Linked DNA regions of Homo sapiens. The protein of the gene in region 2 purifies or fractionates together with the protein of the main gene of each other region. This does not show direct contact. Each region holds a gene or a part of one and is shown on either strand. Other genes may lie near its edges.

Region 1 (3,625 bases), on a different chromosome or scaffold from region 2:
GCCAGGCTGGTCTCGAACTCCTGACCTCAGGTGATGCACCTACCTTGGCCTCCCAAAGTGCTGGGATTACAGGCATGAGCAACCGTGCCCGGCCATATTTTTAATTTCTTTGTAAAGATGGGGTATCCCTATGTTGCCCAGGCTGGTCTCAAACTCCTGGACTCAAGCAATCCTCCTGCCTCGACCTTCCAAAGTGTTGAGATTACAGGCATGAGCCACCATACCCACCCTCCATAAGCTTTTACGCTGGGCAGAAGGCAGCAAAAGGGGAGTCAGCATATCACATGGCAAAAGAAGGAGTGAGACAGAGAGAAGGACCTAGGCTCCTTTAAACAATCAGCTCTGAGGTGAACTCACTATCCCAGGGAGGGCACCAAGCCATTGATGAGTGAACCACCCCCATGACCCAAACACCTCCCACTAGACCCCACCTCCAACATTGGAGGTCACATTTCAACATGAGATTTGGACGTGCCACACATCCAAACCGTATCAAGTGTTATTTTTTATCTTTTATACTGTATTTTTACTGTACCTTTTCTATGTTTACGTACACAAATATTTAGGGGCCCACTGTGTTGCAACTGCCTATAGTATTCAGCACAGTAACATGCTGTACAGGTGTGGAGCCTAGGAGCAATGGGCTCTACCATACAGCCCACATGGCTATACCACCCAGGTTTGTTAAGCACACTCTATAATGTTCTCACAATGATGAACCATGGAACGCACTTCTCAGAATATTTAATCCTTGTCATTAAGAAAGATATGACTGTACTAATATCAGAAATGAAAGACAGGACATCATTACGGATCCACCCACTTTAAAGGAATAATACAAACAACTCTTAAAAACAACAACTCCATGCCCACAAAAGCGATAAACTAGATGAAATGGACCGATCCCTTCAAAGACAGCCAGGAGCAGTGGCTCACGCCTGTAATCCCAGCACTGTGGGAGGCTGAGGCAGGTGGATCACTTGAGGTCAGGAGTTTGAGACCAGCCTGACCGACATGGTGAAACCCCGTCTTCTCTACTAAAAATACAAAAATTAGCTGGGCATGGTGGCAGGCACCTGTAATCTCAGCTGCTCAGGAGGCTGAGGCAGGATAATCAGTTGAACCCAGGAGTTGGAGGTTGCAGCGAGCCATCGCACCACCGCACTCCAGCCTGGGCAACAGAGAGAGACTCCGTGTAAAAAAAAAGTATAATAATGTTGAAAGACACAATCTGCCAAAACTCACACAAGAAGAAACAGATGATCTGAATGAATCTGTATATTAATAACCTTCCAAAACAGAAAGCATCAGGTCCAGATGGGTTTACTGGTGAATTCTACCAAAGCATTAGGGAGCAAATCATGCCAATTCTCTACAATCGCTTTCAGAAAATAGAAGCAGAGAGAGTATCTTCTAACTCCTTCTATGGGGACATTACCATAATACCAAAACCAGATAAAGGTATTACAAGAGGCCAGGCATCATGGTGACTCATGACTCTAATCCCAGCACTTTGGGAAGCAGAGCTAGGCAGATCGCTTGAGCCAAGGATTTCAAGACCAGCCTTGACAACATGGCGAAACCCAGTCTCTCCAAAAAATACAAAAAATTAGCTGGGCTTGGTGGCATGTGCCTTCAGTCCTAGCTATTTGAAAGGCTGAGGCGGGAGAATCAAATGAGCCCAGGAGATCAAGCCTTCAGTGAGCCAAGATCGCGCCACTGCACTCCAGCCTGGGTGAGAAAGTGAGACCGTCTCAGGGCGGGGGGCGGGGTGGAGGTGGGGAGGGCTGGGCGCGGTGGCTCACACCTGTAATCCCAGCACTTTGAGAGGCCAAGGCAGGCGGATCATGAGGTCAGGAGATAGAGGCCATCCTGGCTAACACGGTTAAATCATATCTCTACTAAAAACACAAAAAATTAGCCAGGTATGGTGGCACACGCCTATAGTCTCAGCTACTCGGGAGGCTGAGGCAGGAGAATCGCTTGAGCCCGGGAGGCGGAGGTTGCAGTGAGCCGAGATCACGCCACTGCACTCCAGCCTGGGCGAATGAATGAGACTCCATCTCAAAAAAACACAAAAACAAAAACCAAAAAACAAATGACCAATTACACCAGCACCCGCAAGCATGAAATATTTAGGTAGAAATCTAACAAAACATGCATGAGATCTTCACTATGAGAAAAATTACAAGACTCATAAAAGGTATCAAATGGCCTGGCGAAGTGGCTCACGCCTGTGATCCCAGCACTTTGGGAGGCCAAGGCAGACGGATCACCTGAGGTCAGAAGTTTGAGACCAGCTTGGCCAACACGGTGAAACCCCATCCCTACTAGAAATGAAAAAAAAAAAAAAAAATTAGCCATGGGCCGAGCATGGTGGCTCACTCCTGTAATCCCAGCAGTTTGGGAGACCGAGGCGGGTGGACCACGAGGTCAGATTGAGACCATCCTGGCTAACACAGTGAAACCCCATCTCTACTGAAAGTACAAAAAAATTAGCCGGGCGTGGTGGTGGGCGCCTGTAGTCTCAGCTACTCTGGAGGCTGAGGCAGGAGAATGGTGTGAACCGAGGAAGCGGAGCTTGCAGTGAACTGAGATCGCACCACTGCACTCCAGCCTGGGGGACAGAGCGAGACTCCATCTCAAAAAAAAAAAAAAGAGAGAAAATTATAAGGAAGAGAAAATAAAATACATTTATAGTACTGTGCTGTACTGATCACTTCTGTACGTTTACACTGCTCATTTACAAGATGAATTGTCCGTCTGAAATGGTAGCAACTGCAGCTGCAGACCTCAATCTAATGTATACATCAAGCAACTCAACTTTTTCTTGTAATATCATGGCTGTTCTTGCCTTCTTGGGAGCATTTTCAGCATCACTAGTGGCATATGGATCCTATGGCATTACTCAAAGTTTATGGTATTGCACTAAACACGATGAAAAACGCCTAGGAACCCTGTGAGTTCACTTTTTACTGCAGTAGGAATGTACTGGAGAGGTGAACTGCTCCTTCGGAGATGATGAGTGTCACGTGGTGTTTCAAGGGGATACTCACGACCCTTGAGCTCCACACAATGGCAACAGGAAGTGGCATGAATTATTACAGTAGTACAGTACCTATTACAGTTATTCTTAGGCAGCCCTGATTTAATACTGCACCTCTGCACTACGTTTGTTAACATCTCTCTACGGCGAATGCTGTCATGTATGGTCTGTAAGCGTTTGCATGTAGCCTCTTCTTTTTTAGAGACAGGGTCTTGCTATGTTATCCAGGCTGGACTCCAAAAGTCCTAGGATTAAGGGATCCTCTCATCTCAGCCTCCCGAACAGCTGAGACTAAAGCCAAGAGCCACCATAGCTGGCCATATGCTTAAGTTTTGACAAATGTTACCTTTTCATAATAGACTTGTGTATATTTTATGGCAGTAAATAAAAGACTAGTATCCTCATATATTTTATGTATTCATGACATACCTAACATTTTCTGCAGACTTTGGGTGATAATGACAAGTCAACGTAGACCCACTGACTGTGGGCAGATGCTAGGAATGGAGGAGGCTGTCTGAGGAGAGGGTACATGGAGAATCTCTGTACTTTCCTCTCAATTTAGCTATGAAGCTAAAA
Region 2 (5,608 bases):
ACTAATATAGCATCTTTTCTTCATTATACTTTGTACTAGTGAAAACTTCAAAATACTTGGAAGTTAATAAAAATATTTTTAAACATACGTGGGATCTAAATTGGAAATAATTTACATAGGAAAAAACTGAAAAGTAATATGACAAATATGGAAAGCTCAAAAATATAGTAAAATTAGAAAGTGAACTATAACTCTAGTAGTTAATTTTTCAAAAGTATGTAAATAAAATTATTTTAAGAGGCAGCAAAATAGTCTGCTGACAACAAAGACATTGGTATGTTCTATGAACCCATACAATATAAATCTAGCTCATTAACTCTGTATAAATGGAAAATACACTAGCTCCCTATCGTGAAAAAACTGAAGCATACCATTTTCACTGAATACCTGAGATAGTGGAATCAATGGAATGATATGTATGTTTCCGTCATTCTACTAATTTCAAGCACTTCAGATAATGCTGTATAAATTGGTTTTATTTCCACTCTTGCCGCCACCTCTCCTAATTACTTCTCCACAAACAGAAAGAAGAGTGTTTAATCCATTACTCAGGTAACTCATCTTTCACTTCTTAGCTTAAGCATAGCTTTCCTAAAGAGGACTTCATTAATCTTTGGTGCTGTAAGACTCTTTTGCTCACCTAGGTATCCCCAGCACCTTGCACAGTGGCCTATAAATGTCTTCAAGGAATGAATACAGAAAACACAATTCTGGAATCATCTAATGAATTTGAATTTCTATGGAAAGCTTTAGAAAGCAACCAAGAATTTCCGTAGATTTTAGTAAGTCTTACAATGAATATATTTTCAAATTTGTCTCACAGTATAATGTAAAAAGCTGAGCAAGGGCCAAGAAAGAATCAAACACAGGTTTAAAATGAATGTTTGGATCAAGATTGTGACAATGGAAAAAAAGCGGGAAAGGGGGATGAATATAACATGTACTTCAAAGGAAGAACTAAGGCACTAACAGGAAAACTCTGTGATTCTACACCCTGAACAATTAATTCAACTCCTGAGAACATATTCTAAGGAAAGAATCCAAAAGAATAAAAATCACAATGTACTAAGTTTGTTTTTATGCCATTATCTTTAATGGTTTTTTTTTTAAAAAAAAGCTGACAAAAACAAAAATAATCCTAAATCCTGAAACAGAGAAGTAAATTACTGAACAATTTGATGGAATTATGCAGGATAAGCCAGCAGCAATCTTTCAGAGGTAGTGAATCACATTCTCTTTTATTCATATCCTGTCTCATGCTTAGGAAATGCTCCCCAAACCCTGCACTGCTTTATTACAAATAGCCAAAAGAAAGCGGAAAGCAACAGAGTAAGTTATTTCACACCTTCAACTGTTACCAGCAAAGACAAATACTTGTAGCAAGGGAAGTGAGAAAGGTTCAAGACACCAGAATGACTGAAAAATGACAATAAGAAAAGTGAGAAGTTATCAAATAAAATTTGCTTACTTCTCTGTTAAACTATAGTTCTTGTGATAATGAAACTATAAAGGAGTCAGGAAATAGGTCAAAGTTTTTTTAAGTTTTGAAACTGTTAAAAAGATTTTAGACTTTATCCTAAAAGCAATCAAAATGGGTTTTTTAAAAAAGGATTTTAAATTTGGAAATAAAAACATGTAGAAACCAGCTAGGTGGCTATTTTTCCACAAAACATAGTAATTCTTTGCCTAGGGTGGTAATGGAAAAGAATTTTTGGGGTATGGGAGATATCAAGAAAGGGCTATTTAGGCTAAGAAGGACATCTAGATTTCCAGCTTATGTAATAAATGTATGGTGAGTGGTACTAATCATGAGAAAGAGATCATTGGAAGAGGGTCAGGTCCCAGGGGTAAAATCACAAATTCAGTTTGAATATAATGAGTTTGACATTTGCATGGCAATGTTGAATAGGCAGCTGGATATATGGGTCAAAGAAGTCTGAGCTGGAGACATAAACTTGGGTTATCATGGCAAAGTTACTTAAACTTTGGGCTTAGAAGAAAACACCATGAAAATAGAGGAAAGAAAGAGGGCCAGGGATGGCTGCGAAGAATCCCAACATCAGTGGCCAAAAGAAGAGAAACCTGCAAAGGAGACAGAATAAACAATCAATCAAACGGGGGTTGGTGGGGGCGGTGAAGGAGGTACGGTGCATACCTTAGGTGAGGGAAGAAAAAAACGAGATCCTTGTCAGAAGGCCTTAACTTACCCAATCGGTGGAAAGGCAAAATCACTTCCTAAGAATAAGGCAGGATTTGAGGGTTGAAAGTGGCGGTTGGGCTGGGGAAGGGGGGATCAAGGACATTATGTTATAATGTTCTCACATATGAGAATGTAAGTTTTAAAAAAGGGGTGGGGGGGGATAAAAGTAGAATTTCTGTTGAAGTCTGGAAGAGCTAGGTCGAAAAGATTGAACAGTGGCCCTCTGATCCCTAGAAACTAAACAGACAATGAAAACGGCCTAAAGTTAGAGAGGCAAAGAAAACAGGGAAGCAGTTCACCAAGCCTAAGTCTGACAGGGTGACTAGATATAGAAGGAATCCTTTGATCATGTGACATATAAGCAGTTGAAAGACAAAATCAGATTTTAAGTAAACAGATAATGTGGTTGGGCTAATTGGTGATAATGGAAAAACTATATGCTATTAGGTAAACATTTTCATTTCACCAGTAACATACAAAGCCAATGATCAACTATTATTTAGGCCAATGATTATCAAACACCATCCAAAAAACCTGCAGATGTTGGAAACCCACCGCCAAATAACTTTAACAGTTCTGCATTTTGCAATCGATATTTGAAAAAGTTTTTCAGATAATCTAGCACATAGCTTAAGTTTCAGAATTACTGCCAAAGCTTTAGAAGAACACTTTAAATGGTGTGGCTTTGCCCTTTAAGTCACAGCAGGCTATCAAAAGAATTTAAAAATGGTATCATTATATCATTACTAATAACAAACATGCAAACCAGTGAAAGGGAGAGGAGGAGAATATTTCTGAAAGTATTCTTATGTCCCTCCTTGTTAGGATAAAGGTCCCTAACACTGTTATTTTATAAATTGTGAAACAAAAGATTTGTATGTGTGTATGGGGGGAAAAAAATCCCAGTAACAAACATTCAGGGCAGAATAAACAGAATCCTCACTTACTGTGGCTCTTACTCGAAGGTGATACAATTATCGTTTCAATATTTAGTGCTTTAAAAAAAATCATTTAGTTACAATGTGGTTTTATCATACCTGTTCTTTCTTCTAATTTAGCATACTTTGGAGTATTACACATATTACACTCTGATCTTCTGGCCCAATTCACATTGCTGCAACTTTAGAAGTGAAAAATACTAAATTAGTAGGCTATAATATAGATGAATATCAAATTTTTAGATATTTTACAATTTTAAAATAAAAACTAGGATGAAACCACTGTCAAAGAAATGTTTATTAAGTGGTAATGTAAACAAAGAAAATGTACAGTGGCCTGAAGAGTAAATGTGGGTTCCAACAACGGACTGAACCATTTAAGCAGAGAAGCAAAATTTATATAGTATGAAAAGTGCCTCTGTCATTTTGAGAAGTAAATGACAAATTATAACCACAGGTCGAGTATCACTAATCCACAAATCCAAAATCCAAAAACGTTCCAAAATCTAAAACTTTTTGAGAGAGGACATGACACTCAACAGAAACGCTCACAGGAGCATTTCAGATTTTCAGATTAGGGATGCTGAACCCACAAACATTTCAGGTAAGTGATACTGAACCTGTATAGAAATTCTGATGTCTTATGAAAAAATATAACTTTAAATTAACAGCTCCACTAATTTCTCAGTCTCTGAATATACCTTAAAGAGTATGGTTATACCCTATAAATAATATTAATTTATTTTTTTGAGGTCTCAGTTCAAGCACTGAATTCCAAAGCATACCAAATCCAGTGACCAAATCTGTAGCTGGAAACTTTTCCAATACAAATTTATAATCCTGAGGATCAGAAATTTATTTAAGACTCTAGGGTCAGGAATAGTGGCCCATGCCTCGCCTGTAATCCCAGCACTTTGGGAGGCCAAGGCAGGCAGAATGCTTGAGCTCAGGTGTTCGAGGCCATCCTGGGCAACATGGTAAAACCCTGTCTCTACCAAAAATATAAAAAAATGAGCCAGGCATGGTGGCATGGGCCTGTGGTCCCAGTTACTAAGGAGGCTGAAGTGAGAGGATTGCTTGAGCCTGGGAGGTAGAGGTTACAGTGAACTGAGATCGCCCCACTGCACTCCAGCCTGGGTGACTGAGTGGGACCTCATCTCAAAAACAAAAAATACAAACAAACAAAAAGAGAAATTTATTTAATACTTTTTTGATTTAGACCTCTTTCATACACATAGGATTCATCTGCATAGAGAAAAGATGGAAGTTGGAAAAATCAATGAAGAATTAAATCTAAGCCTGAAAATAAAAATCATTAAGAAACCTACCTATAATTAGACTTAATTACTTACGGCACACAACTTATGAATCTAACATTATTTTGTAAACAGGCAAAATGAGTTTTGTGGTGTATTTCACACTAACTATACAGTCTAAAAATTGGGATTTTTCAATAAAGGAAGTAATAGGCCTTAGTACTTTTAAGTACCACCACCCCCCGATTGGTTTTGAGCTTACCATAAGCATTTGTTTACTGGTATACATAATCCATCATAGTGACAACTATTACCATTAAAAAATGCAAAGAATAATTTAAAACTTCTTTATACTATACTTAAAGATGAGACTGAATAACAATACCTTGGATTTAAAAGGTTACCCTGGCTTGTCAATGTCACTAATAAGAGCTGTAATATAAACAAGTAGTGGCCAGATCTATTATTTTGGAAGAAAGAGCAGACAATAATTTAAAAAACATACGTTTTACATTGCCAGTCATTAGCACTAAATAGGCCTCGGCTCTTTTCTGCAAGTGTCTTTCCTATTTCAGTGCCCCCAGCTTTCATCATCTTGGCCTCAGTTGTTTTCTCTGAAAACAGAAAAATCATGCAATATGAACCTGGAGAAATAAATAAATGATACATATACAGTATAAATAGAATCTTCTTTAAATACTTACCCCGACCACATCGATTACAGCTGGTTCTTCTAGCAAAGTTTACATTTCCACATCTAAAAACAGATTAAAAAGCATTTATAAAAATTTAAATTTGTAAAATTTTACATTTTAACTTGTCCTCACTACATATCTGGAATTCATAACTTCTAATCCATCTTAGTCATGTTAATGTCAATGTTACCAACAAAAAACTCCACACAATTTACTGGGGGAAAAATACTTGATTGGAGCCACAAATTCAGAATAAGATATCCCAATCCTCCATTTACCAGTCATGTGATCTTGATTAAGTTACTTAGGATCTCTGCCTCAAGTCCTCACATTAGCACATATCATTAGTTATAATCCCTTTACAAAGTTGAAAGTGAGAGTTAACTCCACTTCACTAATTACTTACAAGCTACCAGGGAGTTTTAAACCCTAGCGGTGGACCAATGAGGAAAAAAACTTATAAATCAAGGAGGGCTTCATGGATCTTAATGAAATTATCTTTTTACATGCAGTAGGTAG

What was found.
Region 1: the proteins of ZRANB2 (region 2) and LUC7L purify together in Homo sapiens (affinity purification with mass spectrometry; 3 studies listed by BioGRID and IntAct, with this or other methods). This does not show direct contact.

What each region holds. Positions count from the first base shown.
Region 1 is NC_000016.10:201,950-205,574, forward strand, and holds part of LUC7L (putative RNA-binding protein Luc7-like 1), read right to left. Parts: intron 1-3,625. UniProt on the Homo sapiens protein: May bind to RNA via its Arg/Ser-rich domain.
Region 2 is NC_000001.11:71,073,558-71,079,165, forward strand, and holds part of ZRANB2 (zinc finger Ran-binding domain-containing protein 2), read right to left. Parts: intron 5,152-5,608; coding exon 5,099-5,151; intron 5,009-5,098; coding exon 4,900-5,008; intron 3,321-4,899; coding exon 3,238-3,320; intron 1-3,237. UniProt on the Homo sapiens protein: Splice factor required for alternative splicing of TRA2B/SFRS10 transcripts. Binds to ssRNA containing the consensus sequence 5'-AGGUAA-3'. May interfere with constitutive 5'-splice site selection.